Regions from separate parts of the Homo sapiens genome. Here region 2 is linked to region 1. A link means that fine-mapping ties the variant in region 1 to the expression of a gene that starts in the linked region. Tissue or cell type: whole blood. Region 1 holds a variant in brackets; the other region holds the start of a gene. All regions are shown on one strand. Distances are between the middles of the regions. Region 1 has its middle 35 kb from the start of MIR5707. Region 2 holds the start of NCAPG2 (non-SMC condensin II complex subunit G2).

Region 1 (2,905 bases):
TTTGAAGGTAGATATGTTAGTTAATAGATGTGGGCCAGGCGCGGTGGATCATGCTGGTAACCCCAGCACCTTGGGAGGCCGAGGCAGGCAGATCATGAGGTCAGGAGTTCGAGACCAGCCTGGCCAAAATAGTGAAACCCCATCTCTACTAAAAATACAAAAAAATTAGCCAGGCATGGTGGCAGGCAGCTGTAATCCCAGCTACTCGAGAGGTTGAGGCAAGAGAATCGCTTGAACCCAGAAGGCGGAGGTTGCAGTGAGCCAAGATCACCCACTGCAATCCAGCCCAGACGACAGTGTGAGACTCCATCTCAAAAAAAAAAAAAAATGCATAAAAAGGATTTGACAAAATTTTAACACCTACTCACGGAAAAAAATTCTCAGAAAACTAGGAATAGAAAGGCACTTCCTCATCCTGATAAAATGCATCTATAAACAACCTACAGTTTATTGAGCTGTGGAAGACTGAATGCTGTGCTGTGGAGACCAGAACAAGGCGAGAGTGCCTGCTCACACCACTTCCAGGCTACATTTTACTGGAGGTTCTCACCGGCACAAAAAGGAAAAGCAATAAAAGCATCCAGACTGGAAAGGAAGATGTAAATGGCATTTATTTTTAGATAACCTGATCGTCTGAGTAGAAAATATGACAGAGCCTATAAATAAACTACCACAAGTCATCAATGAGCTTAGAAAAGTAGAATACAAAGTCAACATACAAAAAGAAACTGCCTTCCTCTATTCCAGTATAAACAATTAGAAGTTGAAAATTTAAAAATACTACCATTTACAACAGCTCTATAAAACACAAAATACGTAGGGATAAATTTAATAAAACATATGGAAGACCTATATCATGAAAATGACAAAATATTGGGAGAAATTAAATGTCTGAAAAACTAGACAATGGTCATGGATCAGACGACTCAACACTGTTGAGTGTCAATTCTCCCTCTGCCCGAAGAGCTTAGCAGCCTAGCAGCCTAGCCTCAAACTGTGTTTCAAACTGTTTTTTCTTTTCCTTTTCCTCTTCCCCTTCCCAGTCTCAAGATAAAACTTTGAGACAAACTGCATATGTGTTACCTTTCATCTCGAAATACAGCCTTGGAATGTGCTGCGAACCTCCACTCCCTTTCATTTTTATTTTTGGAAACAGTCTCGCTCTGTCGCCCAGGCTGGAGTACAGTGGTGCAATCTCCGCTCACTGCAACCACCACCCCCTGGGTTCCAGTGATTCTCCTGCCTCAGACTCCCAAGTAGCTGGGATTACAGGCGTGTGCCACCACGCCTGGCTAATTTTTTGTATTTTTAGTAGAGATGGGGTTTCACCATGTTGGCCAGGCTGGTCTGGAACTCCTGACCTCAGGCAATCCACCCACCTCAGCCTCCCGAAGTGCTGGGATTACAGTCGTGAGCCACCGAACCCGGGCCCTCCACTCTTCTTTCTTTTCCCACTGTATGCTCCCATGCTTTATGCACATGTATTTACCCAGATACTAGTTAAGCACACACCATGCTCTCTTATCTGGCCATTTATTTGCTTAGAAGCTTCAGGGGTCGGGTCCTAAAAGGGACTAGGCAACTCCGGAATTCTCTTTCCAACAAAA[G/A]ATTATTTCAAGGCCAGAACCCTCTCCTGGCTGAAGAGTGACTACAAGATTGACTGTGATTAATTTATAACCTGGTAGGATGCACAATGGTGCCGGCCCCTTCACCAAATGGGACAATAATTCAAGAAGGGCCACTGAAGCAAGTCACGCCACCTGGCACCTCTTAGTCCCCCTTGCCTCTTCCGCATTCCAAACCCTTTCTGTAAAACCCTGCGTTCCCTCCACAAACTGAAGAGTGGAACTGCTCTTCCCCTTGCCTGCACAAATAATAAAGGAATATCACTCTTTCTCATCATAACTTATTATTTTGCCTTCTTTCCATAAGTGGCCGGACTCTTTTTGCGAGTTAATCCCCAGCTTGATCTGTAAATTTAGTGTAATCACAATCAGAATTGTACTGCATGTTTTCGTCTGTAGAAATTGACAAATTGATTCTACAATGTATATGAAAAGGCAAAGGAGCTAGAAAAGCCAAAACCACATCAAAAAACAGAAAGCCAATTGGGGACTTGCAATTCACAATTTTAAGACACAGGTACGGCTCAAATAAAAAGGACCCTGGGAATTGGCGTAAGGATGGCCATAGCTCAGTGCACAGAAAAGACTCCAGAAAGAGCCCACACAGGTATAGCCAACTGCATCTTGACGAAGATGCAAGGTGATTTCATGGAGGAGGAAAGGGTGCAGGAACAACGGGATAATCATATGGGGAAAAACCAAAAACAACAAACTGAACTTGGACTCCACATCCAAGATTAACTTAAAATGGATTACACACCTAATCATAACAGCTCAAACATACACTTACACAGCAGAGCTTCTCAACATCACACCATTGACCACTGGGCTGGAATGACTCTTTGTTGCAAGGGCTGTCCCGTGCCTCCTACCTGAGGCATTTTGTGGCAACCCAGCCCACCAAGACACCTGTGCCACTGACGGAAAGAGGGGCAAACTCATGCCCAGCTGAGCCCTGCTGGTCTAGATGAAGGGCAGGTCCAGAGATGTGTCATGGAGTTCCTTGATAAAAATATTACCTTCTAATGGTGCAGGGACTACTAGATATCCATATGGCATAAAGAAATAAATAAATCCTTACCTCATACCATACATAAACATTAATTCAAAATGGATCACAGACCTAAACACAAGAGCAGAGCTTTTAGGTTTCGATAAGGAGATAATAAAAGCAGCCACAGACACCAATGTAGAAATAACAGCAAGATTCTCGGCCGGGCGCAGTGGCTCACGCCTGTAATCCCAGCACTTTGGGAGGCCGAGACGGGCGGATCACGAGG
Region 2 (2,905 bases), 79 kb after region 1:
GGCAATATTCCATGTTTCTTGTACCATATGTGCATAAGACCTCAGCCCTGCAGCCAGAATGCTACTTTCAAGGTAAGGAGTCATCTCACCATCCAGTTATCAGTCCGAAGAGCAGGTTACTCTTCGCACAGGAGGTCTGGTACTAAATCAAGATGAGCATTAAAAAGAAGAAATCCCTGTTACCTTCTCACCACCTGTGACTTCCCACTCCGTCCCCAAACTCCTTCCTCATGGACACAACAAGAGGCACCAAACCAGCAACAAGAGTTCAGGAGACTGATGTCTCTGAGGACAATGCCCACGTCCACAGCTGGGGAGATACTCTCTGAGGGCAGTGCCTACACCCAGGGCTCAGGGGGACTCTCTCTAAGGGCAGTACCGACACCCAGGACTGAGGGGACTCTCTCTGAGGGCAGTTCCCATGCCCAGGACAGAGGGGGTCGCTCTCTGAGGGCAGTGCCCATGCCCAGGACTGAGGGGACGCTCTCTGAGGGCAGTGCCCATGCTCAGGACTGAGGGGGTCGCTCTCTGAGGGTAGTGCCCATGCCCAGGACTGAGGGGACGCTCTCTGAGGGCAGTGCCCATGCCCAGGACTGAGGGGGTCGCTCTCTGAGGGCAGTGCCCATGCTCAGGACTGAGGGGGTCGCTCTCTGAGGGTAGTGCCCATGCCCAGGACTGAGGGGACGCTCTCTGAGGGCAGTGCCCATGCTCAGGACTGAGGGGGTCGCTCTCTGAGGGTAGTGCCCATGCCCAGGACTGAGGGGACACTCTCTGAGGGCAGTTCCCATGCCCAGGACAGAGGAGGTCGCTCTCTGAGGGCAGTGCCCATGCCCAGGACTGAGGGGACACTCTCTGAGGACGGTGCCCATGCTCAGGGCTGGGGGGTCGCTCTCTGAGGGCAGTGCCCGCGCCCGGGGCTGGGATTTTCCTCCGACACGGACAAGAAGGACGGGCGTCGCTGAGCTGGGTAGGGGGGATGGCCCGGGGTCGCCAGTTCCGTCCAGTTCCGTCAGAGGCAGCACTGCCCGCACGCAGGTCGGCCGCCTCCTTAGGGGAGGGGAGGCTGGGACCCCGACCAGCCGAGGAGGGGCTTCCCGCCCGATCCCTGCTACTTCCCAGCCCCTGCTCTGAACCCAATCCCGGCTCGGCACCGCAGCTCTTACCTGGGCTCGGGGACCCGCCGTTTCCCGCGCTCGGACCAGATTCAAACGCACCCGCCGGCGCCCCAGACGGGCCCCGCCCTCCCGGTCGTCATCAGGCGCCGCTCTCGCGAGAGCTGGGGCGCCGCGAGCCTCGGGCCTCGCCCACACGCCCGGCCCGCCCCGCCTCCAGATCATGCCCCGCCCACATGCCCGCCAGTCTTCTTCCTGTCTATGCCCCGCCTCTTAGGGCGCGGCCTCGAGCAGCTAAGCCCAGTGCCCTACCGGGCACTACGGAACGCGCACGCGGGGCGCCACAGCTGGGGAACCCATGCCCGGTCCGCGCGCCGACGTCCACTGCGCGCTCGTGCGCGTCCTGGGGCCTCCGCGGAGGGAGTGCGCGGTCCAGGAGAGGGCGGGGCGCTGCGAGCGGGCGGTGTTGTGGGAAGGAGGAAGGAGAGGAAGAGAGAGAGGGGGAGAGAAAGGAAAGGCTTGGGGCGGGGAGAGGCCACAGGGCCGTGTCTGGATCCCCGGGAGGACCCCACCCCGACCTGGCCGGCCCCCGTGACCGCCCTCCCTGCCGAGGGGGCACCTGTCCGGGTGGTCCGCAGCCTGCACACGGTAGGTGCACCCTGGGCAGGTGCTTCCCCCGCAGGAGCCCCTCCGGCCAGGTGCGGCCCCTAACAGGTGCTTCTCCTGCAGTTGCTCCTCCAGCAGGTGAGGCCCCCGGCAGGTCAGCTGCCCATAGGGTGGAGAGGGAGAGGCCTTAGCGGGGACCCTCGGAGGCACCCGTGTGAAGGAGGAGTAGCAATGTCATTCAATTCTTTGGACTTAAATGCCAAAATCACATACTGATGTATCAATCTCTTTTAATTTGTGTCAGCGAATAACTTGATTGGGCGTTCCCAATTTTTGTTGAAAGCAAATTCTTAGAAAACGGTGCTCTTTACCACCGAGCTCTGCATCCCTTCGTGAGGACTTGGCCTTCCCTGGAGCTATATTCTTTCATGCTTGAGATGTCTAGAGTGGTATCTGTTTTCCTGGCTTAACTCAAGCCAGAGGTCTTGGCGAGATTGAAGTCGTTGCACTGTGGGAGCACAGCACCAACCAATAGGAACATCATGGGAGCCACAAGTGCACTTGTAAATTTCTAGTGACCACATTAGAAAAATGAAGATAAATAGGTGACATTAATTTTTAAATATGTTTTATTTAGCCTAGTATATCAAAAATATTTATGTTACTTGTTGGAATATCGTTTCAACAAGCAATATAAAATTATAGCAGGGAGAAGACTGGTTTACTAGGAAGCTTGCAACAGTGAAGCAAGGCAGGCTGCAGAGGGGAGGGAGAAGACCCACTCAGAGGATGCTGAGTCTGGGACCCTTGTCAACAGGTGGCCGATATCTAACATTGCCTATTTCATCCTGGGGCTCCAGCCACCTCTGACCTCCTCCTCCCTCCATACACAGATCCTTCCCTGCCATTTCTTGAATTTTGGTGCCCTCATCTTCTCACTGCTTTCTTCTTAGCAATTTCCTTCATATCCAAGGTGCAAACTGCCACCTTCAAGCAGTGACCTCTGCATCTGGATTTGCAAGACACGGTTATTTCTGAACTCCAGAATTTTCAACAGCTCACTGCCTACTCCCACGCTGGTGCTGACATGCATCCAAAACAGATATCGACTTCCCCTCCCACCCCTGAATCCTGCCCCTTTCCTTATGCTGGTCCCTCCTCCAATCAGCCATCTGTTCCTGGGGTTT

Evidence for each region. PIP is the estimated chance that this variant, and not a neighbour inherited with it, causes the effect.
Region 2: NCAPG2 starts here. The variant in region 1 is fine-mapped to the expression of NCAPG2 in whole blood (TOPMed, PIP above 0.99).

The regions. Positions count from the first base shown.
Region 1 is chr7:158,625,018-158,627,922 of GRCh38, forward strand. No RefSeq gene overlaps it. Among named protein-coding and RNA genes, the nearest start is that of MIR5707, 35 kb to the left of the region's middle. The variant G/A (reference allele first, on the strand shown) is at 1,608.
Region 2 is chr7:158,703,561-158,706,465 of GRCh38, forward strand. NCAPG2 (non-SMC condensin II complex subunit G2) reads right to left here and starts at 1,244. Exons shown (of 28, transcript NM_017760.7): 1 at 1,164-1,244. RefSeq lists an enhancer at 5-583 and silencers at 1,161-1,260, 1,411-1,500, 1,621-1,900.